Linked DNA regions of Homo sapiens. The protein of the gene in region 1 interacts with the protein of each later gene in a pairwise test. Each region holds a gene or a part of one and is shown in the gene's direction. Other genes may lie near its edges.

Evidence for each region.
Region 2: the proteins of ZNF696 (region 1) and VWC2 interact in binary tests that used the Homo sapiens proteins (3 or more experiments, as listed by UniProt).
Region 3: the proteins of ZNF696 (region 1) and PDE4DIP interact in binary tests that used the Homo sapiens proteins (3 or more experiments, as listed by UniProt).
Region 4: the proteins of ZNF696 (region 1) and TENM4 interact in binary tests that used the Homo sapiens proteins (3 or more experiments, as listed by UniProt).

Annotation. Positions count from the first base shown.
Region 1 is NC_000008.11:143,286,740-143,294,438, forward strand, and holds the start of ZNF696 (zinc finger protein 696), read left to right. Parts: upstream 1-4,677; 5' UTR 4,678-5,028; intron 5,029-6,232; 5' UTR 6,233-6,262; coding exon 6,263-6,326; intron 6,327-7,699.
Region 2 is NC_000007.14:49,769,289-49,776,653, forward strand, and holds the start of VWC2 (brorin precursor), read left to right. Parts: upstream 1-4,349; 5' UTR 4,350-4,825; intron 4,826-6,044; 5' UTR 6,045-6,147; coding exon 6,148-6,843; intron 6,844-7,365. UniProt on the Homo sapiens protein: BMP antagonist which may play a role in neural development. Promotes cell adhesion.
Region 3 is NC_000001.11:148,966,417-148,973,438, forward strand, and holds part of PDE4DIP (myomegalin), read left to right. Parts: intron 1-126; coding exon 127-240; intron 241-422; coding exon 423-560; intron 561-1,309; coding exon 1,310-1,489; intron 1,490-2,419; coding exon 2,420-2,614; intron 2,615-5,763; coding exon 5,764-5,928; intron 5,929-6,094; coding exon 6,095-6,176; intron 6,177-7,022. UniProt on the Homo sapiens protein: Functions as an anchor sequestering components of the cAMP-dependent pathway to Golgi and/or centrosomes.
Region 4 is NC_000011.10:78,668,019-78,675,040, reverse strand, and holds part of TENM4 (teneurin-4), read left to right. Parts: intron 1-2,711; coding exon 2,712-3,008; intron 3,009-4,489; coding exon 4,490-6,104; intron 6,105-7,022. UniProt on the Homo sapiens protein: Involved in neural development, regulating the establishment of proper connectivity within the nervous system. Plays a role in the establishment of the anterior-posterior axis during gastrulation.

The DNA of each region.
Region 1 (7,699 bases):
ACTGCACAGCACCAAGGTGCCAGTCAGTGCTGGTCAGGCTGGCCGCTAGGTCTTGGTGCACCCGCCACTTCCTACCACCCTTGCATTTTCTCCTCTTAGGGCCACTGGTGTGTCTCACCTGGAACCTGCTCACCAAAAACCCGTCTGTTACTTCACAGATCCTGCCACGCGGGAGCCCGGCACAGCTTGGCTGAGGTCTCTGCCAGGGTCTCCTGGAGCTGCCATTAAGCTGTCCTGGTCTCCGAACTCCTGTGGAGCTTGAGGTCCTTCCCTGACCATTCGGGCCGTGGCAGGATTTCCATCCTGCGGCTGTGGGGGTCAGGCCCTCGGCTTCCAGGGGTAACTCAGAGGTCTCTGCCTCCCCTGCTCCTTCTGCCAGGAGACTGGGAGTCCTTCCTTTCTGTGTCACCTGTTTCCTGGCTGCGTGTCCACTTGCTTCAGTTGACCCACGGCCTCTTCTTTGAACAACAGTCCTCTTTCTCTGAGGTCTTTTTTTGTTTGTTTGTTTTTGTTTTGTTTGGTTTGATTGGTTTGTTTTGAGACAGAGTCTTGAAGGGGTGGGTTGCCCCTCCACACCTGTGGGTGTTTCTCGTTAGGTGGAACGAGAGACTTGGAAAAGAAAAAGACACAAAGTATAGAGAAAGTAATAAGGGGACCCAGGGAACCAGCGTTCAGCATATGGAGGATCCTGCCAGCCTCTGAGTTCCCTTAGTATTTATTGATCATTCGTGGGTGTTTCTCCGAGAGGGGGATGTGTCAGGGTCACAAGACAATAGTGGGGAGAGGGTCAGCAGACAAACACGTGAACAAAGGTCTTTGCATCATAGACAAGGTAAAGAATCAAGTGCTGTGCTTTTAGATATGCATACACATAAACATCTCAATGCTTTACAAAGCAGTATTGCTGCCCGCATGTCCCACCTCCAGCCCTAAGGCGGTTTTTCCCTATCTCAGTAGATGGAACGTACAATCGGGTTTTATACCGAGACATTCCATTGCCCAGGGACGGGCAGGAGACAGATGCCTTCCTCTTGTCTCAACTGCAAGAGGCATTCCTTCCTCTTTTACTAATCCTCCTCAGCACAGACCCTTTACGGGTGTCAGGCTGGGGGACGGTCAGGTCTTTCCCTTCCCACGAGGCCATATTTCAGACTGTCACATGGGGAGAAACCCTGGACAATACCTGGTTTTCCTAGGCAGAGGACCCGGCGGCCTTCCGCAGTATTTGTGTCCCTGGGTACTTGAGGTTAGGGAGTGGTGATGACTCTTAAGGAGCATGCTGCCTTCAAGCATCTGTTTAACAAAGCACATCCTGCACAGCCCTTAATCCATTTCACCCTGAGTTGACACAGCACATGTTTCAGAGAGCACGGGGTTGGGGGTAAGGTCATAGATTAACAGAATCTCAAGGCAGAAGAATTTTTCTTAGTACAGAACAAAATGGTGTCTCCTATGTCTACTTCTTTCTACACAGACACAGTAACAATCTGATCTCTCTTGCTTTTCCCCACAGGTCTCACTCTGTCACCCAAGCTGGAGTGCAATGGCGTGATCTCAGCTCACTGCAATCTCCACCTCCCGGGCTCAAGTGATTCTCCTGCCTCAGCCTCCCGAGTACCTGGGATTACAGGCGAACACCACCACTCCCGGCTAATTTTTGTAGTTTTAGTAGAGATGGAATTTCACCGTGTTGGCCAGGCTGGTCTCAAACCCCTGACCTCAGGTGATCCACCCGCCTCGGCCTCCCAACGTGCTGGGATGACAGGAGTGAGCCACTGCGCCAGGCCCAGCTGTCTTTGTTTTTCAGGGGTGCCTTTGGTAATTTCTTCATCGTACTTTTTTTTTTCAGGGTAGCAGGTAAGAGACTCAGTGGATAGGCTCATGGAAACAGTCCTTGAAGGGGTGGTATTCTAAGACTCAGCTACTTTTTTTTTTTTTTTTTTTTTTTTTTTTTTTTTGAGACGGAGTCTCACTGTGGAGTGCAGTGGCGAAATCTTACTGCAACCTCCGCCTCCTGGATTCAAGCAATTCTCCTGCCCCAGCCTCCCGAGTAGCTGGGACTAAGGCAAGCACCAACATGCCTGGCTAATTTTTTGTAATTTTTTTTTTGGTGGAGATGGGGTTTCACTATGTTGGCCAGGCTGGTCTCGAACTCCTGACCTCGAGTGATCCTCCTGTCTTGGCCTCCCAGAGTGCTGGGATTACAGGCGTGAGCCACCTCTCCGGCCTGGACTCGGCTACTTTTGGATCAAGAAATCCAGAATTTTCTAGACTGTGAACTTGCCCTTTATCATGGACATTTACCACCTGCAACTGCCCAGAGGTTCTCTGTCTCACCCTACACCGTGAGGACCCCCTTAGCAAACAGAATTCCAGGGCGCGGGCTCTTCGCAGGATCTGAGCTATTCGCGGGCGTCCTGAGTTGCTTGGATTCACTCCCCCACCCCCATGTCCCTGGAGTCCTGCCTTGTGTTTTCGATTCTGTTTCTCAGGGGCCCCAGCGTGTGGCCTCCCATTGTGGGAGAGCAGGAGGGAAGCGGTGAGGGGTGATTTCGGAGGAGGCAGAGCCCCGGGTGTCCGTGGGAAGCTCCAAAGCCGGGCCGCGGGACGGCTACCCTGGGCTGTGACGCAGTCCAGGATCTTCGCCAAGGCACCTGCTGGAGGCCCCTCCTGGGTCCCACGACCCCGACTGCGCCTGCCGGCTGCCAGCGAGGAGGCGGGGCCAAGGCGAGGGCGGGGCCGAGGCAGGAGGGGCGGGGTCGGCCTGATGGGCGGGGCTTCCGTGTGGGCGGGGCTGCTGGCCCTGCGGTCTGAGCCAGCGGGGAGAGGCCCGGGCGGAGGAGGCTGCGGACTCCTAGAGGTTCAGTGCCGGAAGTTGGGCCTGGAAAGGGGGCACCGCCTTCCCGGTTCTGGTGGCGGGGAGTGAGGGGACGGGCGAAAGCGGCACAGGGAACAGCATGACACGGGCCTGAGGCAGGGCACATTTGGAAAGGGGCGAGGAGAGGGCAGTGGCTTCTGGCACGGCAGCAGTGGGCATACAGAGGCAGTCGGGACCCGTCTGGAAGAGCCTCCGCCCGGGGTAAGGAGCCGGGACTGTGTCTAGGAGGCAGTGGGGAGCTCCGGAGAGCGAAGCGCCTCCTGCGCAGACTCGCGTGCTTGGAGTACCGGAGCCTGCAGGGCAAGAGAGGGTCTTCAGAAGACCCACGACGTTCCACTGGGATGCAGAGGGAAACGGTTACTTGTACTTCTACATCATCTCTTTTAGATGTGTGTGTGTGTGGTGTGTGTTGTTGTTGTTGTTTTTGTTTTGCGACAGAATCTCTGTCACCCAGGCTGGAGTGCAGTGCCAATCTCGGCTCACTGCAGCCTCCGCCTCCCGAGCTCAAGTGGTCCCCCCGCCTCAGCCTCCCGAGTAGCTGGTACCACAGGCGCCGGCCACCACGCCCGGCTAATTTTTAAAAAAAATTTTTAGTCGACACGGTTCTAACTATGTTGCTCAGGCTGGTCTGAAACTCCTGGACTCAAACAATCCTCCTGCCTTGGCCTCCCAAAGTGCTGGGATTACATTCATGAGCCTCTCGCCCACCCAGTCTAAGTGTTTTAATTTTTATCTTTTACAACAGCTTCTAATTTGTTACAAATAAACGTGCAGCATGTGGTGGGAGTGTTCAGGTGTTTACTGGTGCAGTGCGCAATGAACGCGGTTCCAGGCACGAGATGTGGAGGCCCAGAGGCAGATGCCGGGTGGCGGCGGCGCGGGACTGTCGGAGGCGCGGGCAGGGACCTGGGCTCCCAAGGCTGTGGCCCTCCCGCCCCAGTCCAGGGTCCAGTTCCAGGGGCGCGTCTGGCCCTCTGTTGCTGTCTTCTTAGGGTTCTCTCATGGGAATCGGTTCTTCAGCCTTTCTTTTCTCCCCAGAGAGGGTCTGTCTACTCGTTGTAAGAGGGAACAAGTCCACATTGCAGCTGTACACTTTGCACCCATGATGAAAAGCGTCACTTTTGCAGCATTCCAGCTGGAGATGCGTGACCTTCGGTCTGCGGCAGGCGGAAGGGCGAGAGACTTGGACAGGAGGTGCATCTTGCCCGGGGAAGGCTGAACGAATGAGAGCTCGGTCCCTGGTGAGAAAGAGCCCAGAGCCCGCGAGAGGCGGGCAGCAAGGGCTTCTCTGCAGCGGAGACGCGAGGGCGGCGTCCTGCAGGGAGGCGGGGGGCAGCGCCTGGGGCGCTCCAAGCTCTCGGCCCCAAGGAAGCCCACGCTCGGGACCCGCGTGCTGCCACAGCCCCGGGGGCCTGGAGGGTCCCGTGAGCCGAGCGGGACCCGGGACAAGCGCGGGACGCCGCGGGGAACGGACGGGAACGCGCGTGGCCGCCCCACAGCGGGCCTTCGACACCTCCTGACACGTCCTGCGGGTGCCCGGTCCTCAGTTGGCTCGAGCCGGATCCCGGCGCGCCAACGGCTCGACCTTGCCCCCCACGAGGCAGGGCTTCCTGCCCGGCAGGAAGGACTCGGCCGGCGCCTGCGGGCAACCGATGAGCTGAAGGCGCCGCGGCTGGGCCGTCCCGCTCTCCCGCCGCCGAGCGCGCTGTCCTCCCGCTGCCCAGAGCGTCGCCGGAAGTGCCGAGGGGGCGGGCCAGGGGTGGAGACTGGCGTTTCCGGCGCGCGACGGGGCGGGGACCGTAGCGGGTGCAGTCCAGCTGCTCTGGACGCTGAGGCCCCGGCTTCTCTTGCTGGGGTGTCGATTCGGGAGGGCTGAGGGCGCGGCCGAGAGAACGGGGCGGTCACCGCCGCCGTGGCCCGCGCGTCCCGCGCTCTCCTTGCAGTGCAGGCCCCAGCCGCTCTCGGGCGCGGCGTGGGGGAGGCGGCCCTGCAGGTGCGTACCCGGGGTCCGACACGTGCGGGGCTTCCTGCGAGCTGAGTCCCCGCTGCGCGTCTTCAGGCCTTTGTAAGTTGTCAAATTTCCCACCGGCCCAGCTCATCGAGCTTCTTCCCAGCTGTGAACAGGAGGGCCTGTTCCCTAATTCTTGCCGGTAAGGTACTTGCAAAAATCTGCTTCCAGACTAAAAAATTGCACTTTAAATTACCTTTTTGTAAAAGCGGCGGGGTCTCGCTATGTTTCCCAGGCTGGCCTCCTACTCCTGGGCTCAAGCGATCCTCCCGCTCAGCCTCCCTGGCAGGCGGGATTACAGGCGGCTTAAATTAAATTTACTAATTAATCACTTTATTTACTTATTTTTTTAAGACAGGGTCTCACTCCAACGCCCAGCTGGAGTGCAGTGGCGAAATCTCGGTTCACCCCAGCCTAGACCTCCTGGGCTCAGGCAGTCCTCCCACCTCAGCCTCCCTAGTAGCTGGGACTACAGACGCCCACCATCACACCTGGCTAATTTTTTGATTTTTTGTAGAGACGGGGTCTCACTATGTTGCCCAGGCTGGTCAGGAACTCTTGTAATCAGTCAGTCCTCCATCCTGAGCCTTTTGAAGTGCTAGGATTACAACTGTGAGCCACAGCACCCAGCCAAATTACATTTCTTAATTGCACTTGAGGTGAGACCTAAAAAAATGTATTGCCTACTGGTTTTTCTTCTTTGTGAGTTACCTATTCATGATCTTTGCCAATTTTCCTTCCTTTCTCATTAATATATAGAGGTCTTTATCAGATAGGGATGAATCTTTGCATTGCACGTATTCCTCCCTTTTTGGTTTTTTTTTTTTACATTAAATTTTTTTATGTAGTTGAATTTGTCAGACATCTGATGTCAGGCTTAGAAAAATCATTCCTCATTCCAAAACTTTACCATTCAAATAAGTTGTTCTTTTCTTCTGGTTTAACATTTTTATATTCAAATCCTTATAACTACCAAGAAAATTTTAAAACCCATGGGAATTTCTCTAGACATTTGAAGACTGCTGGAGGGCGCGGGCTTCCTCAGCATGGAGCTAGGAAGCTGTGGCCACGCCCACCTGTGCTCTGCGTCAGCCCTGGGTGGAGGGGGACCCGCAGAGCCTGGACCAGAGTTCCTGGGCATCCCACAGAACAGAACACCCGCTTCTGGGAGTGTCTGTTGAGCCAGGACCTTGATTGCTAGTGACAGGAGTGGGCCCAGCTGGGTGATGCAGCTCCCACAGGGCCTGTTCTGACAGTTTCCTCTGAAGGCATTCTGACCTCACTGCCCCTGGCCCCTGTACCTAGCCCTGGCTGTGATTTATTTTCCTTTTCTTTTACCTAAGCAGAAATTGTTCCAACTGCTGGTGTTCTGCAAGATGGAGCCAGGAGGAGAGCCCACAGGTGCTAAAGAGAGCAGTACCCTGATGGAGTCCCTTGCAGGTGAGGGGACATGTCCACAGTCGGGCCCAGAGTTCCAGGGCAGGAATTGAACAGGAATACAGGAAAAACACCATGTCTCAGTCACTGACGCAGAGCATATACTGTGTCCTTGGGCGCAGGGTGAGGGAGGGAGGTAAACGCAGGCCCATCAGATCTCCTGGGCATCTGTTTGGTGACTGTCTTTGCCAGTGAACTGAGAGCTTTTGGTTAGAAAGTCTGGCAGCCCCAGGCTCTGCCTCTGGGAAGGTCTCTCTCTCAGTGCTTCTCCACCTTGGCACCGTGGCTGTTTTGGAATGGACGAGTCTTTGTTGAGGGGCCATCCTGTGTGTTGTAGGACGTTCGGCAGCACCCTCGCCTCTGCCCACTTGGTGTCAGTAGGGCCCCCTCCCAGTTGTGACAATCCAAAACATCTCCACACATTGTCAAATGTGCCCTCAGGACAAAATCGCCCCCATGAGAACACTGCTTTATGTTTTGGGGCCACCCTGAGAGTGTGTCACAGCAACAGCCCGGGAGATGGCGTGGGCAGTGCAGGCCCTGCTGTGAGGTCTGGGATTGCCTCCATCGGAAAGGCGTCCTTGGGGCCTGCAGGCTGGATCCAGTAGAGCTCCACCACGTATGTGTCCCCTTCTCACCATAGTCTTGGTTCTTTTTCCTCATAAGCAATACCTTTGAGTCAGTTCTTGAACTTCCAAGTCTGCAAACCACAAGACCAGGGCTGGGCCTCTGCCAAGGGGCTTCTGTTCTGCAGGCCGCCCTGAGCGCCTCCCGCCCCCTGGCTGCTCAGTGTCAGGGGTCTGCAAGGGCAGAGAGAGGTGGGGACTGTCGATAGCAGCCTGCTCTCATCTGCCCTGGAACATCCCTGCCCCACCCCCACCTCCACAGGAGCTTCCGTCTTATCTGCGCCCTCCACATTCTTGAGAGGTGCAGCTGGGACTCAGCCGCTTCTCCTCTGCTGCCACAGCGGACTGCCTGCAGACTGAGAAGTCCTCCTCAGTTGCTGTGCTGGCCTCGTTGGCCCCCCTCCTCCTGCTGCCCCTCCTGGCTGAGTCCTCCTGCCTCCTATGCAGGCCAAGCTCAGTTGCCAGCTTTCTCATGTCCCAGGGTTTCACCCCTACCCCTTAAGCCTTTTTTCTAAATGGCCACATGGTCTGTCCCTGTGAGCCAGTGGAACCAAATCTAACCAGTGGCTTGACTGCCAGACAAGGGCCATTGATAACGCAGCCTGGATGGGGTTGCTCAGCCTGACCAGCGCCGCCGCCGCCCAGCCCACATGGGACGTGGGTTGCTGCTTCCAGCTCTTGTTCCGGATTTCTTTTCTTTTCTTTTTTTTTTTTTTAAGACAAAGTCTTGCTCTGTCGCCAGGCTGGAGT
Region 2 (7,365 bases), on another chromosome or scaffold:
ATGGTTTCCCATGGGCAAAATGAAAAACAGTAATGGTTGCTAAGACTAGTAGTATTGTAAGAAACTGAATGAGATGGTTGTGAACTTGCCCAATATTGTATAAATAATAAGTGAATTTCTCCTAATTCTGGCTTTCCTTCCTTCCCTCCCTCCCTCTTCCATCCTTCTTCTTTCCCTCCTTCCTTCCTTCTTCCCTTTCTTCAATCCTTCTTCTTCTCATCTTTCTTTTCTTCCTTTTCCCTATCTTCTTTGTTCCTTCCCTCTTTCCCTTCCTCCCTTCCTTTCCTTCTTCCCTCTCTTCTTACTTTCTCTCTTCCTTCCTCTTTTCCTCAATTCTTCTCTTCCTCCTGCCCTCTCTTCATTCCTTCCTTCTTTCCCTTTCCTTTCTTCTCTTCCCTCATTCTTTCTTTCCTTCCTTCCTACATTTTTTCCCTCTCTTTCATCCTTCTTCTTTCCCTCCCCCATTCCCTCTCTACCTCTTTCCATCCCTCACTACCTTCTTCTCTTTCTTTACTTCCTTTCTTCCTCCCTCCCTTCCCTCTTTCCTTCCTTCCTCTCTCCCTTCTTCCCTCCCTTGCTCTTCTTCTCTCCCTCCCTCGCATTTCTTCTCTCCCTCCCTCTGAATTGCCTTCCCTTTCTTTCTCCCCTCCCTCCCTCCCTCCTTCTTTCCTTCCCTCCTTCTATTGCTGCTTCCTTCCCTCCTTTTCCCTTTCCCTCCTCAATTGGTCCTATTGGCTCTAAGAATAGAAGGATGAATAAAGCATAGCCATTGCCCTTAAATAAGCAACCATTTCAGAGGTGAGTACAGATAATGCAGAGCTATGAAAAAGTTGACTGTTATAAGGGACATTAAAAAAACAGTTGACATAAAAAAAGTTGACATTAAAAAAAAGTTTAAGGGACATAAAAAAAGTTGACATAAAAAGTTAACTGTTACAAGAGACATAAACCACTCTCTGGGGAGAAAATAAAGGTAAGATTAATTCTGCCAAAAGGGACAGGAAAGGTGACTGGCCTAGAATCCTGCCTGGAACCCACTTGCTCTGCATTGCTCAGGGTTGGCCCTGTGGCCAAGCTCAGACTCTCACACCGGCTACTAAATATGACTGTACCTCAGCAGATGGATTTAACTCTTGCACACAGGAAGAAAATGGAAGCAACAAACTCAGTTAAAACGGGGCATGAAAGCAGAAATGTGCTATATTCCTAGAGTGCTTTGGGCTTCCTATTCATTCAGAGATCCTCTCTCTTCCCTTTTAAAGGTGAGAAAACAAAGAGCCTGTAACACTGAGTGACTTGTTCAAAGTTGCAAAACTGGCCCCTGGTGGAACTTGGATTACACTCATGTCACTTCAGTCCCTGACCAGAGATCTTTCTGCTCCTGCCTTGCACTCTAGCCTGGAAAAAAGGAAAGGATGGAAAAGTAAAGAGGAAGGGAAAAGCAAAAGGGAAGGGGAAGAACAAGGGGAAGTGGAGAGAAAGAGAAGGGAAAGGGAAGGGAAGGAGAGAGGAAGGGAGGGGAGGGGAGGGGAAGGGAGGGGAGGGGAGGGGAAGGGAGGGGAGGGGGAGGGGAGGGAAGTGAAGGGAAGGGAAGGGAAAAAGGGGGGATGGGAAGAGAAGGGAAAGGAAAGCAAGGAAAAGGAAAATAAGTGGAAAGGAAGAAAGGAAAGAGGGAGGGAGGGAATAAAGGAAAGAAGGAAAGAAATGAGGGAGAGAAAGAGGAAAAGGAGAGAGACGGAGGAGGGAGGGAGAAAGGGGAGAAGGAGGGCAAAGGGAAGGAAGGAAGGAAAGAAAGGAACAAAGAAGGAAGGAAAGAAGAAAAGTTAATCGCAACAATTCATTGCACTGGCAATAAATAAATTGTATATTCCTTCAACGCCTGCAAAGTCCCCTATATTTTCTCGAATTACTCAGCTCATCAAGCTGCATGGGTATTGCTCTTCTTCACAAAGGACAGCAATCCCTTGGAAACTGCTTTCCTCCCTCATTCTATCAGGCCTGTAACACTATCTCTGAGAATATCTAACAGAACAAAGCCATTTGGACACTTGGTCACTTAATTCATCCTCAGTTTTGTCAGGCCTCTTCTTGAAAACTTGGCTATCTCATATTCATGGCTCTCTACTGGAAGCAGCTGGCTGGGACAAGAAGTTTCTGATTCAGAGAGACCGGTGATTGAGGTGGGATTAATAAAGGGACATCATTATTTCCTCAGCTGAGCCCCCAATCAATTTTTCAGTTAGAATCCTGGACACATAATGTTACTGTTTCGTTCTTATTAGTCACATGTGTTTGGGGCTACCCCATCGTAACCACATGAGAGTACTGTTGGCAAAACAAAACAAACAGGATGTTTAATGACAAGAACAGAATTAGCTAATAAGTCAAATAACAAAATTTGTAGCCTAACCAATGCTATAAAAGCACTTGATTTTATAGAACCGAGGGCCCATTTTGCACATTACATATGATCACACCTCGAGCCGTGTTTTTATTTTGGTGGTGTTGTGAAAGGTGTGATATTTGGATTAGAGCATCATAAAGACACAGAAGCCATAACTGATTAGAGCATGTGATGAGAGGCAGGTGGGTGGGTAGGCAGCTGCAGCCACAGCAAATGTGGCCTGTCTCTTTTCTGAGGGTAACAAGAAACGAAAGGGCCGAGTGTGGTGGCTCACACCTGTAATCCCAGCACTTTGAGAGGCCGGGTGGATCATTTGAGGCCAGGAGTTCAAGACAAGCCTGGGCAACAAAGCAAGATCCCATCTCTACCAAAAAAAAAAAACAAAAAAAAAACAAAAGAAAAAACCTAAACGAAACAAAACAAAACAAACAAACAAAAAATTAGCCCTGTGTGGTGACCTGTACACCCAGCTCCTCCGGAGTCTGAGGCAGGAGTTTGAGGCTGCAGTGGGCCGTGATCATGCCACTGCACTGAAGCCTGGGTGACAAAGTGAGATCGTGTCTCTAAAACATTAAAAAAAAAAAAAAAAGGAAAAATGAGAGTGAGAACTGAAACAGCAGAAGGGCTCAAATCATCCTGTACATAGAAATCCTCCATCCAGGCCAGGCGCGGTGGCTCACCAGCATTTTGGGAGACCGAGGCAGGAGGATCACGAGGTCCGGAGATCGAGACCATCATGTCCAACATGGTGAAACCCCGTCTCACTAAAAATACAAAAACAAAATTAGCTGGGGGTGATGGCGGACGACTGTAGTCCCAGCTACTCAGGAGGCTGAGGCGGCAGAAAGGCATGAACCCGGGAATCGAGCTTGCAGTAAGTGGAGATCGCGCCACTGCGCTCCAGGCTAGGCCACAGAGCGAGACTCCGTCTGAAAAAAAAAAAAAAGAGAGAGAGAGAGAGAAAGAAATCCTCCATCCAGCCCTGTTGGTTGTGTATGTGTTGGAGGGGGTGGAGGGGCAGCCTTCTCAGGCTTTCAAGGAGGGCTCCCTAGCACCTCAGCTAAGATTTGTTTGTCTATACTATTAAAAGATAGACATAACTGTGTCCCAAACCAGCCTCCCCAGTTCCCACCAGCCAGAGCGCCTGACCTTGCAGGGAAGCTTATCTGTTTACCGTCCGAGCACTTTCAGGGATTCTAAAATGCCGTGAGTGGGAACCACTGCCATGGGCCATTTCCATGAAAATTCAATTTCGGGGATTAATTTGAACAGGTACTATTGACGTTTTCTCGTTTACACAAGATCAAAGAGTAAAAACAACCGGGCCTCTGCTTAACAGTTGAGGATTCTAGCAAAGTTAGGAAACAGGTTTCTATTTGTAGTAGAAGAGAGAGCAGGCAGAAAGAGGAAGATGGGAGCGGGGAGAGATTGGCAGAGATTCAGAAAGTTCGCGCTTGAGATTTTTACGTTTCTTACTCGTAAACGTCTATTTCTCTGGGTTTCTGAATGCAAAGACGAGAAAGTCTCAACAGTCTGCTAAACTAACACGGCCTTCGAATCCCAATCTGAACACAGTAGCTGAAACAAGCTGTCCACAAAGAGGAAAGCCAGAGGGGGCCAATTAGGAAGGAAGAAATTAAAGAAAAGAGAAAAGCCAAGATGAAAGGTCCAGCGCAAAGTGAATGACTCGACTGGAGAATGGCAGCCCTGGCAGGGTCTGCGGCCGGCTGCGGAGGTGGGGACGCGGCCGCGCGGACGAGTGACAGGTTGGTCCGGCGCAGCAAAGGGAGCGGGTGCGGCGGTAGGGCCTCTCCGGGGGCAGCGCGAGGGCCTCCCCCGGGGCAGCGCGGGCCAAGGCGGGGCCTCCAGAGCGGGGGCAGCAGAGGAGGGAGCGGAACGGGAGCCGGGCGGAGGCGGCTGCGGCAGGGGGAGGCGGGAGGCGGGCGCGCTAGCTCCCATGCTGGCCTCGGTGCCACTCGCGCGCCGGCCGCGCTCCGGGCTTCTCTTTTCCCTCCGACGCGCCACGGCTGCCCAGACATTCCGGCTGCCGGGTCTGGAGAGCTCCCCGAACCCCTCCGCGGAGAGGAGCGAGGCGGCGCCAGGGTGGCCCCCGGGGCGCGCTTGGTCTCGGAGAAGCGGGGACGAGGCCGGAGGATGAGCGACTGAGGGCGACGCGGGCACTGACGCGAGTTGGGGCCGCGACTACCGGCAGCTGACAGCGCGATGAGCGACTCCCCAGAGACGCCCTAGCCCGGTGTGCGCGCCAGGCGGAGCGCGCAGGTGGGGCTGGGCTGTTAGTGGTCCGCCCCACGCGGGTCGCCGGCCGGCCCAGGATGGGCGCTGGCAACCCGGGCCCGCGCCCGCCGCTGCTACCCCTGCGCCCGCTGCGAGCCCGGCGTCCGGCCCGCGCCCTGCGCTCATGTATGTAGGTTTGGCGCCGGTCTTCAGGGCTGAGGGTGCATGCTGGGTGTCCCCGCGCGGCCGGACGCGCTCCAGCTGGGTTCAGCCGCTCAGCTGCTCCGGAGGAACCCCCTCCCCCGCCCAAGTTTGTGAATATGGGCGCTTCGCCCAGTGTTGAGGTCGGCAGGGACCGGGCAGGGGGTCAGCAGGGCCGGGCACGTCCGGAGCCCTCAGGGAGGAGGGCTGAGGGGGAGGGGACAGACGCACCGGAGTGCGCAGAGTGGGGGCGTTCGGGGAGTGAGGCGGAGAGAGGCTGGATTGCCGGTGTCCTGCGGCGTCTCGGGCTCTCCCAGCCCCTTTGGGCGGCAGAAACTTTGGAATCCAGAAAGGCTGGCCGGGATCCAGCGAGTAGGAGGGTCTCGCGCCCACTCTGCGCCCTGGGGCCCCAGCCTCCCGCACTGCACACCTTGGTGCTGCCCGGGCGCTTCTGCTCCGCAGCCAGGACACTACAAGACTGAGCGCTGCGGCCGGCGACCTGGCTCCCAAGGCTCGGAGGGGCGGGCCGGCAGAGGAGCTGAAGCCCCGGGAATCCCCGACCCGGCCCTCTGGCAAGGGGCCGAGGGCATCCTTTCATGCAGCGGGGCTTAGAGAGCGGGGAGGGGGCGTCTGCTCCCGAGACGGGAGTCTTTTAAGAAGTTGTTAGAAATGAATCGTGGAGTCCTAGGAGAAGCTTTGTTTAACCTCCCCGCATTTTCCCAGCACAACCCCCTAAAGCAAATGAGGAAGAGTTTCCCTCTTATCTTCCTGTACATTCGTCCGTCTCTAACTCCACTGCTGAATTCTCCATTTAATAACCTTCGGGAAATGTGGCCAGGACCTAGGGAGGGACACCCTGGGTGCCTGAATTACGTGGTTCAAGGCAGAGCTTTGCAGGGGGGCGCGGGCCTGGCTCGCTGCGTTCCCTGGGCTCCGCAAGCCGCCCTTGGCCATCTCCAACACTAATCACGACTACATCAGAAACACGCCGGCCGGTGTCGTTCTTGGATTTCGCTTCCAATGTATCGCTCCACAGTTTGTGATGTCTAAGAACCCCGGCCGTGCACCGACGCTGGGCATGCTGCCCCCGCCCCCGTCGCCCAGCTCGTTAATCTAGAGCTATGCCGGAGCCCGGGTGGGGGCCGCGGCGGGCCGGGGCGCGCGCGGGCCGCGGGGCTCAGTTGTGCTGCTGTTCTCTCCGCAGGGACGGCGGCTCCCGGCTGGCGGCGGCGCGCCCCCGGGCTGTGAATGCGACTCGCCCCTCGGCCGCGCTCCCCGCCCGCCCGCCCGCCGGGACGTGGTAGGGGATGCCCAGCTCCACTGCGATGGCAGTTGGCGCGCTCTCCAGTTCCCTCCTGGTCACCTGCTGCCTGATGGTGGCTCTGTGCAGTCCGAGCATCCCGCTGGAGAAGCTGGCCCAGGCACCAGAGCAGCCGGGCCAGGAGAAGCGTGAGCACGCCTCTCGGGACGGCCCGGGGCGGGTGAACGAGCTCGGGCGCCCGGCGAGGGACGAGGGCGGCAGCGGCCGGGACTGGAAGAGCAAGAGCGGCCGTGGGCTCGCCGGCCGTGAGCCGTGGAGCAAGCTGAAGCAGGCCTGGGTCTCCCAGGGCGGGGGCGCCAAGGCCGGGGATCTGCAGGTCCGGCCCCGCGGGGACACCCCGCAGGCGGAAGCCCTGGCCGCAGCCGCCCAGGACGCGATTGGCCCGGAACTCGCGCCCACGCCCGAGCCACCCGAGGAGTACGTGTACCCGGACTACCGTGGCAAGGGCTGCGTGGACGAGAGCGGCTTCGTGTACGCGATCGGGGAGAAGTTCGCGCCGGGCCCCTCGGCCTGCCCGTGCCTGTGCACCGAGGAGGGGCCGCTGTGCGCGCAGCCCGAGTGCCCGAGGCTGCACCCGCGCTGCATCCACGTCGACACGAGCCAGTGCTGCCCGCAGTGCAAGGAGAGGAAGAACTACTGCGAGTTCCGGGGCAAGACCTATCAGACTTTGGAGGAGTTCGTGGTAAGATGCGAACGCCCGCCGGGCGACTTTGCACCTTCCAGGAAGGGGTGGAACAGCTTTGGTTCTGTGGTCCCCCACTTTGAAGAAGAGGTGCTCTCTGGTTCTGAGAGGTGGAGAGCACTGTGCTCACGTCCCTTTGACATGACCTCTCTTTTTCAGGGCAGAGGTAATCCTTCCCAGAGCACTGTGGCCAATCCATAGGGATTCCTTCGGTGTTCACTTTAAAAGGGCTTCATGAGGATGAAGCCTATGGCACTGAAGGGAAGGATCCCAACAGGTATCGGAGGGACTTTCAACATTAATGTACTGCTCCTAATTTGGGAATGTTGTCGGTGAAATTCTTAACCTGCTTTCAAACACAGGGTAATTTACGGTACCATTTGGGATATATTCTTCAACTAATAGCTAATTAAGGGAGACTATTCATATAAAAAGCCATTTCCCTAGATTATGTGTTTAGGGTATCATGCAAATGTTCTAAAAATTAAAAGAAAAAGAAAATATTTGCTCACTGGGTGCCAA
Region 3 (7,022 bases), on another chromosome or scaffold:
TAAACTTGTTACTTTTGAGGAGAGTGATCACATCTTGTTTTTTTTTTATCCTGAATAACTAGCAAATTACTTGGTAATTTAGTTAATATTGGATAAAAGAATAAAAGAAACTATTTTTGGTCTCAGGAATTTCGGGAGCTCCTACAGTATCGAGATAACTCAGACAAAACCCTTGAAGCAAATGAAATGTTGCTTGAGAAACTTCGCCAGCGAATACATGATAAAGCTGTTGCTCTGGAGGTATGTATCATCATTTCGCCCACTATGCTATGGATTATTCTATCTACATAGGTATTATAGAAATTTGTGTTTGCTTAAATTTGCTGCTTTGGGATTTGGTTTTCTATTCTGCCATCTTGTTGAATAAGAGTGATCAGGATAGTAAATCTTACAGAGCTTTAGGAGTCTTCCTTTCCTTGCAGCGGGCTATAGATGAAAAATTCTCTGCTCTAGAAGAGAAAGAAAAAGAACTGCGCCAGCTTCGTCTTGCTGTGAGAGAGCGAGATCATGACTTAGAGAGACTGCGCGATGTCCTCTCCTCCAATGAAGCTACTATGCAAGTAAGAGCAAAACCTATCTCTGACTTGGTGTTCCTCTCCCACTTGTATCCTGAGCCTGAAGCATGACCCCCTTCCATCATTTTCTGAAAACCAGGGATTTTGCTTTATAAGGGGGAAGAAAACCAAAAAGAGCAGTTACTAGTTCCATCATTGTCAATTAGCAAGTGAGAGATTTTAGCGCTTCTACTTTTCTTTTGTAATATGAACTTTGTGAGGAGAGCCAGTAAATATTGATTTCTGTTTACATAGTTCTGATTTATTTCCAATTCTTGTTCATACATAAGTATACATACACACACGCTCTTCTCTCTCTCTCTTACTTTTACTGAAGCATTACCAGGGTGCAATTATTAAATTGTGTCTTCTACATTAATATTATCTACATGTCCATGAATTGCCATAATTAGAACACTTGTTTATCTATATTTACTGTGGACTTTTTTGCATATTTATTTTAGAGCTTATGTATCTATCTGCCACTTTTTCGAGAAATCCTTTATAGCATAGTGCACTTCCTCCAAAATACTTCCTTTTATCATATATTCTATATTTAATCTCTCCACAAACTAGATAAAAGTTTCTAAAAACCAAAAAAATAGATTAGTATGGCATTGTTAGATCAATGTTCTCATCTTGCAAATAAAAAAAAATTGATGGGAGATTATTTAAAAGTGGATCTAATTTCTTGTTTATCCTGAGGAGTATGGGGTAATCATTTTGACTGATTATTGCTCTCTTTATGGCTGTAGAGTATGGAGAGTCTCCTGAGGGCCAAAGGCCTGGAAGTGGAACAGTTATCTACTACCTGTCAAAACCTCCAGTGGCTGAAAGAAGAAATGGAAACCAAATTTAGCCGTTGGCAGAAGGAACAAGAGAGTATCATTCAGCAGTTACAGACGTCTCTTCATGATAGGAACAAAGAAGTGGAGGCAAGACTTCAGTTAACTTTAAGGCAGTTGGTTCAGTGATTATGTAATCTCAGCCTTGGATTAGGACTCTTCAGATTGGGAGGACTGTGACCCAAGTCTTTAATTTCATTCTGTGCCTGGGCAAGTCATTGACTTTCACTGGGATTTTTTTTTTCCCCACGTCTAGAAACTTAAGTTGGCAATTAACTTTCTCAAAGAACTTATGTGAGAATTAATGAGACCCAAAAATTGCATCTTTAACATGATAGCTAACCTTTATTAGTTATAGTCTTCATGCTGGGTCAGGTACTGTTTTAAGATCCTAATGGATATTAACTCATTGGATCCTCACAAGTCCATGAGGTACTTTCTATTATTCCTTTTTATAGAGGAGGAAACAGACTTCTGAAGCTAAGTAACTTGTCCAAGCTAACATAGCTAATAAGTAGCAGATCCAGTATCAACCTAGGCAGTATGGCTCCATTCCTCCACCATGTGCCATCAGTTAGTACAGAAATAGAAACCATCGCTATGATAGCAAATATAGTGTTTAGTATTCCTTTCAGCTTATCGTTTTATGCTTCCCCCTGTTAAGTTACACTGGGGAGAAAACAAATAAATGAACTGAGTGTCCATTTATCCTCATCTAACATTAATTGTTACATGCCCTGAACAAATAGGAAAAAGACTTATTTCAGAAAACAATATGTATGTAAGTGGCCACCAGAGATAGTTTTCTGTATGGTTTGTATTCATTCCTGGGACATGTATTTAGAGACTTCTGTGTAGCAGGCCTGTGCTAGATCTGGTAAAACAAAAATGAGTAAAACATGATACTTATTCTCAAGAATCTCACACCTCCTTCTTCTATGATAGATTCTTATAAGCCCTTTGATATTTAGCAGAGGCATTTCTTTCCTCCAGAAGCTTACAGTGTCCTTTCTGCATTAGGATCTTAGTGCAACACTGCTCTGCAAACTTGGACCAGGGCAGAGTGAGATAGCAGAGGAGCTGTGCCAGCGTCTACAGCGAAAGGAAAGGATGCTGCAGGACCTTCTAAGTGATCGAAATAAACAAGTGCTGGAACATGAAATGGAGATTCAAGGCCTGCTTCAGTCTGTGAGCACCAGGGAGCAGGAAAGCCAAGTAAGGATTAATGCACAGATCAGACAAGTGTCATGTAGTGCATTTATAGTCTGCAAATAGGAAGCATTTGCAGACTATAGATGTGTGTATATTTATATATTTTACCGTCAACTCTGTTAGTTTCTTTCCTTCTATTTATTACCTAAACCACAGTTTTATTTATTTACTTACTTATTTAGAGATGGGGGTTTCGCTGTGTTGCACAGGCTGGTCTCAAACTCCTGGGCTCAAGCAATCATCCTGCCTTGGCTTCCCAAAGTGCTGGGACTATACGTGTGAGCTGCTGCGCCTGGCCTTAGACCACAGTTTTACATTAATCATCAAAGTATGACACATTTCTTGAAAACCTTGCATTTGGAAGGGTGCCTAAACAATACATGTATCCATTAACTTCATTACATACATTTTCTTTTCCTTAATAATCTGATAATTTTGAGAGAAAGGAGTAGGGGTTGTGAGTGTTTCGATTTTGATTCTAAATTGTTAAGACTTGAGTGATATTTTGCATTTCCAGTCAAGGTATGGGAAAACTTACACTCAACATGTTTACTCTTAGTTTTTGTAAAATCTGAGTTAAGAGGGAAAAAAGATCGCATTTTTCAGAGGTCATGGTGAGAATAAACAATCTCATAATAGTACAGGGTATATTAATTTCACAATATTTAAGAAGTAAATTCTTTTTTTTTTTTTTTTTTGAGATGGCATCTCCCTCTGTCACCCAGCTGGAGTGCGATGGCGCAATCTTGGCTCACTGCAACCTCTGCCTCCTGGGTTCAAGCAATTCTTCTGCTTCAGCCTCCCAAGTAGCTGGGATTACAGGCATGCACCACCATGCCCGCTAAGTTTTGTATTTTTAGTAGAGATGGGGTTTCACCATGTTGGCCAGGCTGGCTTACGATTCCTGGCCTCAAGTGATCCACCCATCTCAGCCTCCCAAAGTGCTGGGATTACAGGCGTGAGCCACCATGCCCTGCCCATAGTAAAGTGTTAATTTTTCCTCATTTCTATGTGTTTTCTCCTCAAGGCTAAAAACTCTTAGTTGACTTGTGCTGCATTTCAGATACCAGTAGCTCAGAATCCCCGTAGTCAGTTTTTAGAGGAAGATAGACTCTTTTTTGCCTATGTTATTTGACCCCATAATATTTTCTTATGTTTTCTTATGTTGTGAAAGGATTATACTCCACTATTCTAATTGTTAGGCCCACTGAAGTAAATACACATCTTTCTAGAAAGGTCCTGCTGTGTGCTTCAGAAATTGTTTCTAAAATAGACCTAACAAAATTATTCTAAATTATTTAAATCTTTGGCAAGAGGCTAGGATCTTTGAGTTTTCTTTTTAACTTCTTTGTGATTTGGGACAATTGGTCTTTATTATACCTCAGAAAAAAAATTATGCACTGCTGGTAATAGAATAATGGAGATGATGGAAATTACAGGAGATTTTTCAACTCAAGAAGATTAATGGTTGTATTCTTCTAGATCTGCTTCTCTAAATTTACGTGCAAAAGAAATCACCTGAATAGCTTTTTAAAGATGTAGATTGTGGAGCTCAACTCCAGAGAAAGAAATTACGAGGTATAGGTGGGACTTAAGAATTTGCATTTCTAACAAGTTTCCAGGTGATAGTGATGCTGCAGGTTCGGGGACTGCATTGGAGGAGCACTGCTAAAAACTCTTAAATACTACGAGAAAAGGAGTGCCAAGGCAGATAGAGCACAGTATATATCTTGTATATTATTTATTATGTTTTTTCCCCACAGTTTTCACAGATATTTTTATTAAGGTACTTTAATAATATTCTGATACGTCTAAAATAGTTAAATTCAAATCTCCAAAGAGCCCAAATTTTACTTACTGAAAAGTGGAAGGTTTTTTCATATTTCCCCTAGAAATTGTGACAAGAGCTCAGCTTCTGCCCTAAAACAATAGTACTTTTCCTCAGAGACAGTTGGTGTTATGATTCATCATCTTAGACCCTCAGTAATTTTAATATCAATTTATTATTTCCAGATTTTCTGTTTAAATGCAGACTTCCTGTGCATTAATAGTTAAAAATGTTCTAGATCTTTCCCTTAGTGTGTCATCATCTGTCTTAGAAAACTGGGATTTGAAATGAAACAAGCTGAGTTGGGTGATTTTGAGGTTGAGATTATCCTAATCATGTGGTCTGATAAACATGTTTATGTGCGTAATTGATTCATTCAGTAAATATGTAGTGTGTGCCTATTATGTGCCAGACACCGTACTGGGTGCTTGAGATTCAGCACCAAATTGCCTTTAGGAAACTTACATTCCATGTAGGGGAAGCAGAGAGAGAGATCTATTAGATAATGGTAAGTGCATCGAAAAAAAATTAAGCACAGTAAGAAGTGTTGGAGATAGAGAAGAGATTGCTGGGTTTTAAAAAAAATTTTTTCCCAGCTTTATTAAAGTATAATTGACAAATATTGTATATACTCAAGGTGTACAGCATGATGTGTTGATATACATATACATTTTGAAGTGATTGCCACAAATTAACACATCCGTCACTACACATTTTATGCGTGTATGGTGAAACCACTTAAGATCTACTCTCTTAGCAAATTTCAAGTAAATAATACAGTATTATTAACTAAAGTCACCATGCTATCATTGGATCCCCAAAACATATTCATCTTATACTTTGGCCAGCAAGATTGCTGTTTTGGATAGGATACGCAGGAAAGACCAACCTGATAAGGTGACATTTGGCAAAGACCTGAAGGGAGCAAACCACACAAATGTTTGAGTGAAAAGGAATCCACCCCTAAGAAGCAACTATCCGAGAATAAAGACATTTGTTATACTAATTCAAACCAGAATCTTAACACCTTAGCCTGATAGTTGTAGCAGAACCTATTTCAGATTCTCTTATCTGTTACAGATGTGTTAAATTCAGTTTTTTTTCCCAATATTCTGCCTATGAGACTTTCTTTCCATTCACTTAACTCTGTTTTTCCCTGTAAACTGAAAGCAAGGAAACTATTTCCTAAGGACCCACTGTTTTTTGTTGTTGTCATTGTTGTTTGTTTTTTACAAATGGTTGACTTTGAAGAAATAATACCAGAACAAAAAATTTGTTTTACTAGAATATCTTTATAATGTTATTTGTGATTTCCTCTTACTAGGCTGCTGCAGAGAAGTTGGTGCAAGCCTTAATGGAAAGAAATTCAGAATTACAGGCCCTGCGCCAATATTTAGGAGGGAGAGACTCCCTGATGTCCCAAGCACCCATCTCTAACCAACAAGCTGAAGTTACCCCCACTGGCCGTCTTGGAAAACAGACTGATCAAGTAAGAACTATAGACTTACATAATTCATGCTGATTCCATTTCCTTTTTACATTTGAGGTGTAAGTTTGATAATTTTAATACCAAATTCTGAGAATATTCTCAGTACTGTCATTGTGATCATAGTTCCTGCATCTTCCTAAGTCCCCTGACTTTTGCAATTTTTTAGGGTTCAATGCAGATACCTTCCAGAGATGATAGCACTTCATTGACTGCCAAAGAGGATGTCAGCATACCCAGATCCACATTAGGTAAGTATCAAATTTCATTTCATTAAGGGACTTTGTTTTTCTCTTGTTTTTTCTTCTAGTAATCTCTGTATTATAGGTTTGGCCAAGACTCTTTTCTCTTCCTACCTTAATAGAACAAATAAGTTTGGAATTCCTCTGAAAGGCTGAAGAACTGTCCTTACCTTATGTTGAGTTGAGCTGATTGCTCTGGGTTCACAATTCGGCCCAGAGAAATTCTATCCTTACTCTCCTTTTCAGATAGCTTTGCAGGGATTCAGAAATGCAGGAGGTAATTGTTCCAATCCTGCACAGCAGGGCCATGAGCTGACACCTTTTCCTGGGTATCGTTTCAAGTCTGGGGCCACTCACTGTAACTTGACATCACCTACTAATGTTATATATATATATAATGTTAGCATAGTTTGATAGTTTCTGGCACAATAAGATGTTCTATGATTACCTTTTGCTTTACCTGCCTCAGTCCCAGAATCAGCCATTATCCTAAAGAGCTCCCTGGTTCCTTTTGGTGGGTAATGGCATTCAGAAACTATGATCTGGACACAAGATGTGTTCATTGCTACATGAATGCCTTTTGCTTCTAGGACCTTTTTTTTTTTTGAGACGGAGTCTCGCTCTGTCACCCAGGTGGGAGTGCAGTGGCACGATCTCTCTGCTCACCTCTCGAGTAGCTGGGACTACAGGCGCCAGCCACCACACCCAGCTAATTTTTTTGTATTTTTAGTAGAGACGGGGTTTCACCGTGTTAGCCAGGATGGTCTCAATCTCCTGACCTCGTGATCCGCCCTCCTCGGCCTCCCAAAGTACTGAGATTACAGATGTGAGCCACTGCGCCCAGCCGCTTCTAGG
Region 4 (7,022 bases), on another chromosome or scaffold:
ACAAAAAATTAGCTGGGTATGATGGGGGACACCAGTAATCCTAGCTACTCAGGAGGCTGAGGCAGGATAATTGCTTGAACCTGGGAGGCAGAGGTTGCAATGAGCCGAGATCGCGCCGCTGCACTCCAGCCTGGGCGACAGAGTAAGACTCTGTCTCAAAAAAAAAAAACTAGAAAATAGGCCCACAGCAGCTACAGAAACAGTAAGTGACTTATCCAATATCACACAACTGGAACCCAGAAAACCAGGCTTCGTTTGTTCCCTCAACAGCCAAGAGCTCTAGTGACTATCTACTGTGGGAAACAGCCTTGCACTAGCTCCCCGAGGAAGGCCTAGCTGTCTTTGTTCTCTGTGGCCTCACTGAGCTCCCCCGTCTGAATTCGCAGACTCCTGCATGCGCCTCTGAGGCAGTGTCCTCAATGGGAAGTTTGACCTGGGTTTGATTCCTGCCTGTGCCATGTGGAGCCTTGAGCAGCTCCTCTGAGCCTCAGGTGCCTCTGCAGAAACAAGATGATACAATCAACGCACCTAGCCCAGCACAGGTAGACTCCAGGTGCTCAATAAATGGCAGCGATTAGCATGATTAGGATTTCCTCTCTGCTGTGTGAACTGGACCAAAAGTTTCCCAGGCTTTAATTGGTCCCTCTCCCAACCTGAGATTGGGACGGGTGGCCACGTCTACATGTCCTCCCAAATAAATGGCCACCCACAGTGGTGGCAGGTGGAATTAGAATGTTAGCCGGGTGTGCCTCCCCATAATGGAGTTCATTTTTTATACAACTGGGAACTTTTTTAATAAAGAGGTGAAATAATCTCATTGCCGCCACTGCCGAGCACAGGACGCATTAGGCGGCTCCCCAGTGAGCTGTTTAATTTTATTAATTTTGCCAAAAAGGTACAGCTCCCCTTCACTAGAGATCCTCCAGGGAGAAAGGGGGACAGCTGGCTGGGTGGCACCACCCTGAGGGGAGTCACAGCGGGACCTTCCAAAAGATACTTTAAAAAGGCCTCTGTCATTGTTGGTGGCACAGCCCCTGTATCTTCCTGTGCCCTGTCTGCAAATAACACAGCTTCAGCCTCCAATGCCTCTGATTTTTCATGGGAATCATCTGCCACACTGTTTTTGCATCTGCAATTGTGTTTGATTACCCCAGAGAAGGTAACCTTATTATAACCAGGTCATTCACAGCTAAAGTCAGCATCGTCATTATAAATCGTTATTTTCAAGGCCTTAGAATTTGTGTGGGAGAAGGAGGAAACACACACATCTCTCCTTCCTGGGATATGACCACGATCGTTTGCTGTCATTTAATGGAAATAATTCCAACCATCTATTCAGTACCTTCTATGTGCCTAGCACTCCACTGATTTACTAAGTTTCTTCAACCTTCACAACAACTCTTGTTATACAGAGTAAGAAACTGAGACTCGGATAGGGGAAGGCACTTGCCCAAGGTTGATAGAAAAGTTGGTCACAAAGTTGCAGCTAGAATCCTGGCCTTCATTCCTAGACCTGCACCCATTTTTTTTTAACCACACAGGGATCCAGAGGGCCTTTCATTGCCTCGGTCCACACATGCCATTTTGCATCACGTGACCTAATTATCTGCTTTCCTCTTGGGTCTTCTGTATTACTTGTCAACCTTAAGCAATGACTAGTGGAAGAGACAGAAAATGTGCCCAAATGTCCCATAAGGCCAGACACCAATTAGCGGAAACCAGTATTTTAGTTCCAGAATACCTGGCAATATTTCAGGGGCCACCAATGCCTACAGGGCAGATCCAAATACAGAAACAGGCCCCTGAAGTATATTTCTTTATTAAAATATAAAAACCCTAACCTACCACTACGTCTGTAGGAGCCCTGTCTTTCTGACTCTGAAAGGAAATTGAACTGTGTGCTGGCCTAGCAGTCCAGGTGGAGTTTATACAAGGCACTCCCGATCCTGAAGGCAGGAGCAAAGTGCCTCAAAGCCAGGACTGTGTCCCCATTCGGCCCACAGGCAGAAAAGCCATCCCAGTGACAAACACTCACTGCCTCCCAGCACCTCTGGGAAGAATATGTCTTGGGTACTGACTGTGGCAATCAAGAAGCCCTGATTGTAGTGGCAAGCAGGAGACACCCGACAGGGGCTGGGAAGTTCAGAGCCCCCAGAAGGCCACGAATTGCTCAGAGGGCCACTGAGTGTTTGGGGGCACGTTGTATGTGTGAGAGTCAAGTCCAGACTCCGTCACTCACCAGCCACGAGATCCAGGGTAAATCCCTTCACCTCCCTGAGCTTTGGTCTCCGCAGTGTCTGGTGTGGAAGAGATGGGTCAGTTTATTTTCTGGGCTCACTTGGTGGGTCTCCTTTCAGCAGGGAGTCAAGAAGGATCTGCCTTTTAAAACGTGTCCTCATTAGAAGAATCACATTAGAAAACATGCAGATCCTCTTTGGTCACAGCTACTGATTTCTCAACATAGGGATCATCTTCATCCTCACAACAACCCTGTGCAATTGGCATTATTGTCCCCATTTTACAGGTGAGGAAACTTCACAGAGCTGACAAATGACAGAGCCAGGATTCAAACCCATGTCTGTTGCTGCGCAGGACTGTGCTCCCTCCTCTACTCAAGAGCTTCCCAGCAGAGCTGAGAGCAACGTGGCCCATCAGACCAAAGTTCTCATGGTCCAGATTAATTTTCTCTTTCCTTCCAACCCTTTCTCCAGGTTCACAACCGAAATCTCCTATCTCTGGACTTTGATCGCGTAACACGCACAGAGAAGATCTATGATGACCACCGCAAGTTCACCCTTCGGATTCTGTACGACCAGGCGGGGCGGCCCAGCCTCTGGTCACCCAGCAGCAGGCTGAATGGTGTCAACGTGACATACTCCCCTGGGGGTTACATTGCTGGCATCCAGAGGGGCATCATGTCTGAAAGAATGGAATACGACCAGGCGGGCCGCATCACATCCAGGATCTTCGCTGATGGGAAGACATGGAGCTACACATACTTAGAGAAGGCAGGTGTCTGTCTCCCTGCATCACTGGCCTTGCCATACAGAAGGCCAATCATTCACGGCCAAGCCCAGCCTGGTGGCCTCAGTGGGCTGTATCTGACCCATGTCACCAAAAGGAAATGTTCAGGAAAGTCTGCCACAGAGGGCATGGGGTCCCAAGAGGCATCAGGATGGATCAGGGAGATAGCATGGCAGGTGGTGGTCCTAGGGCAGGAGAACATGAAAGACCTGCCTGATAGAGTAGAGGCCCAAATACTCACTGGATTTGCAGAGCAGGACTCGGGGTTCAGACCCAGGCCAAGGGTCTGCTCCCAGGTCTAGGGCATGTGGTACAATCCAGTTGTGGAGAACCAGGCAGAAGCCTAGGCATCAGTACATAGGCAGGAGGCACTTACTCCTGAGCTTCAAGTGCTGGGCATGGCCTTAGTAAATCTATTCTGCTCTAGCATCAGAACTCATGTCATCCCAGGGGTAAGAATCAGAAATGACCTAAAATCAAAAGTTGGTCTCAAATAGGAAAAAATGGTAGCTTTGCAGCATAAAGCCTCTAGGCCTTTTATCTGCTGATCTTTTCCTGAGAACAAGTGCACTGCATGCCCCATTTCAAGTATCCAGATCCCTGCTTTGTTTCCTGACCCTGGTGACCTGTCCAGGGCATAGGCTGTGCTTGCTCTGAGGTGGGTCTCCTCTACCCACTGGGTGAGTACCCCCAAAAGTGACATTTTGCGCTAGTACTAAGAGAGAGAGAGACCTTGGAGGTCATCCAACATACTGAAAACCCAAACCCAGAGAGGGGAAGAACTTTCCCAGGGCCACACAAGGAGACTATTGTTAGAAACCAGGTTCTCCCATTCCCATCACAGTCTGCCCTATCCCAGAGTAGGCTTATGACCTGTCATTGTGCAAAGCCTTAAATGCCCTTCTCAAATATGGTCTTCGTGCTGTAAGCCACAGGGAGTCAGCGGAAACTGTTTAGCAGGTAAAAGAAATTGTGAGACTGTGTTTGGAGGAGCTCACTCTTGCCTGAATAGGAAGATTGGTTTGAGAAGTCTGGGGCAAGGAAGCCAGACTGCTGTACATACTTCAGGCCAAAGCTTCTTGGCCGTTCTCACACCCCACCACGCACAAAAGTAACCAGGTCTGTCCTGCACAAAGGGGCAAACCCACGAGGCTGCTCACCATAGGACAGCAAATGGCCTGAGTACCTGGAGGCCTAGGCCCCAGGTAGGTTACAGGTGTGCTAAGGTTAAAGCTGTGCTAAGATGAGGCTGAGAGAAAGCCTCATCTTGGCACATCTGTAACCTATTTGCAGTATCCCGTGACACTCCTGTTGGAGAGCTCTGGTTGGAGCATAACTCAAGAGAACCATGGAAACTCAGGATTCTCCTTGGACATTCATTCCGTCCCTTTAAGTCTCGGGTATGTAGACCTACCCTTTCTCCTCACCACCCTCCTCTCATCTCTTGGTTTTCCTCTCCCTCCAGTCCATGGTGCTGCTACTACACAGCCAGAGGCAGTATATCTTTGAGTTCGACAAGAATGACCGCCTCTCTTCTGTGACGATGCCCAACGTGGCGCGGCAGACACTAGAGACCATCCGCTCAGTGGGCTACTACAGAAACATCTATCAGCCCCCTGAGGGCAATGCCTCAGTCATACAGGACTTCACTGAGGATGGGCACCTCCTTCACACCTTCTACCTGGGCACTGGCCGCAGGGTGATATACAAGTATGGCAAACTGTCAAAGCTGGCAGAGACGCTCTATGACACCACCAAGGTCAGTTTCACCTATGACGAGACGGCAGGCATGCTGAAGACCATCAACCTACAGAATGAGGGCTTCACCTGCACCATCCGCTACCGTCAGATTGGGCCCCTGATTGACCGACAGATCTTCCGCTTCACTGAGGAAGGCATGGTCAACGCCCGTTTTGACTACAACTATGACAACAGCTTCCGGGTGACCAGCATGCAGGCTGTGATCAACGAGACCCCACTGCCCATTGATCTCTATCGCTATGATGATGTGTCAGGCAAGACAGAGCAGTTTGGGAAGTTTGGTGTCATTTACTATGACATTAACCAGATCATCACCACAGCTGTCATGACCCACACCAAGCATTTTGATGCATATGGCAGGATGAAGGAAGTGCAGTATGAGATCTTCCGCTCGCTCATGTACTGGATGACCGTCCAGTATGATAACATGGGGCGAGTAGTGAAGAAGGAGCTGAAGGTAGGACCCTACGCCAATACCACTCGCTACTCCTATGAGTATGATGCTGACGGCCAGCTGCAGACAGTCTCCATCAATGACAAGCCACTCTGGCGCTACAGCTACGACCTCAATGGGAACCTGCACTTACTGAGCCCTGGGAACAGTGCACGGCTCACACCACTACGGTATGACATCCGCGACCGCATCACTCGGCTGGGTGACGTGCAATACAAGATGGATGAGGATGGCTTCCTGAGGCAGCGGGGCGGTGATATCTTTGAGTACAACTCAGCTGGCCTGCTCATCAAGGCCTACAACCGGGCTGGCAGCTGGAGTGTCAGGTACCGCTACGATGGCCTGGGGCGGCGCGTGTCCAGCAAGAGCAGCCACAGCCACCACCTGCAGTTCTTCTATGCAGACCTGACCAACCCCACCAAGGTCACCCACCTGTACAACCACTCCAGCTCTGAGATCACCTCCCTCTACTACGACTTGCAAGGACACCTCTTTGCCATGGAGCTGAGCAGTGGTGATGAGTTTTACATAGCTTGTGACAACATCGGGACCCCTCTTGCTGTCTTTAGTGGAACAGGTTTGATGATCAAGCAAATCCTGTACACAGCCTATGGGGAGATCTACATGGATACCAACCCCAACTTTCAGATCATCATAGGCTACCATGGTGGCCTCTATGATCCACTCACCAAGCTTGTCCACATGGGCCGGCGAGATTATGATGTGCTGGCCGGACGCTGGACTAGCCCAGACCACGAGCTGTGGAAGCACCTTAGTAGCAGCAACGTCATGCCTTTTAATCTCTATATGTTCAAAAACAACAACCCCATCAGCAACTCCCAGGACATCAAGTGCTTCATGACAGGTAAGGACCACGGCTCACTCAGGGGCAGGACCCCATAAAGTGCTCTTACTACCTAACAATACTTAGTCTTCTTTGAGAAAGCTGGCATAAGGTGACAGGAAACACTGACTTTCTCTTAGAGCAGCATTTTCCAAAGTCCGTTTGAAGAAACACTAGTTCAGAAAATACTCTGGAAAAATGGTTCCAGCATCAAATAAATTTGTCAGGGTCACCACCATTATTACATTTTCATAGTACATTTCAGTGTATGATAAGCTCTGGGAAGTGCTATAAAAGTGAACTATTTAATATATTTGCCCACTATTTCTCAAACTTATTTGACCGTAAAAGCCCTTTTTTCACCATGAAATCCTAATATCTCATGGGATACATCCCATGGATTGCACTTTAGGAGTTTCTGACACACAAATCAAACTGCTAATGAGTCCTTGATTGGGTTAAGGTATGGCTTTAAAAAAAAATTAGTTCTCAATTTGGGATAATGTAAGAATGGAGTGAAGGATCCACCAGTTTGAAGCCATGACATGTTACAAAAATTATTTAACTGCCCTGAATTCCAGTTTCCTGATACGTAAATTGAAGTTAGAACATCTACCTATAATTAAATATGTGTATTATAAACCCTAGAGAAACCACTAAAAAGATAAAAACTAAAAAAAGAGTCCTAGCTAATAAGTCAACAGTGGAGATAAAATGGAAGACAAGAAAATAATCCAAAGAGGGCAGGAAAAGAGGGAAAAAAAAGAATAAGGAACACATGCAACAATAGAAACTAACACCTACCTGGTAGGGTGGTTGCAAGGGTGAAGTGAAATACATTTCATGAGGTACTTAGCGCAGTGCCTGGCTCGTGTTGGTTCCCTTTCCTTTACCCCCTAACTTGAAAAGTGAGCTCTGCCTTCCATTACCATGAAACCA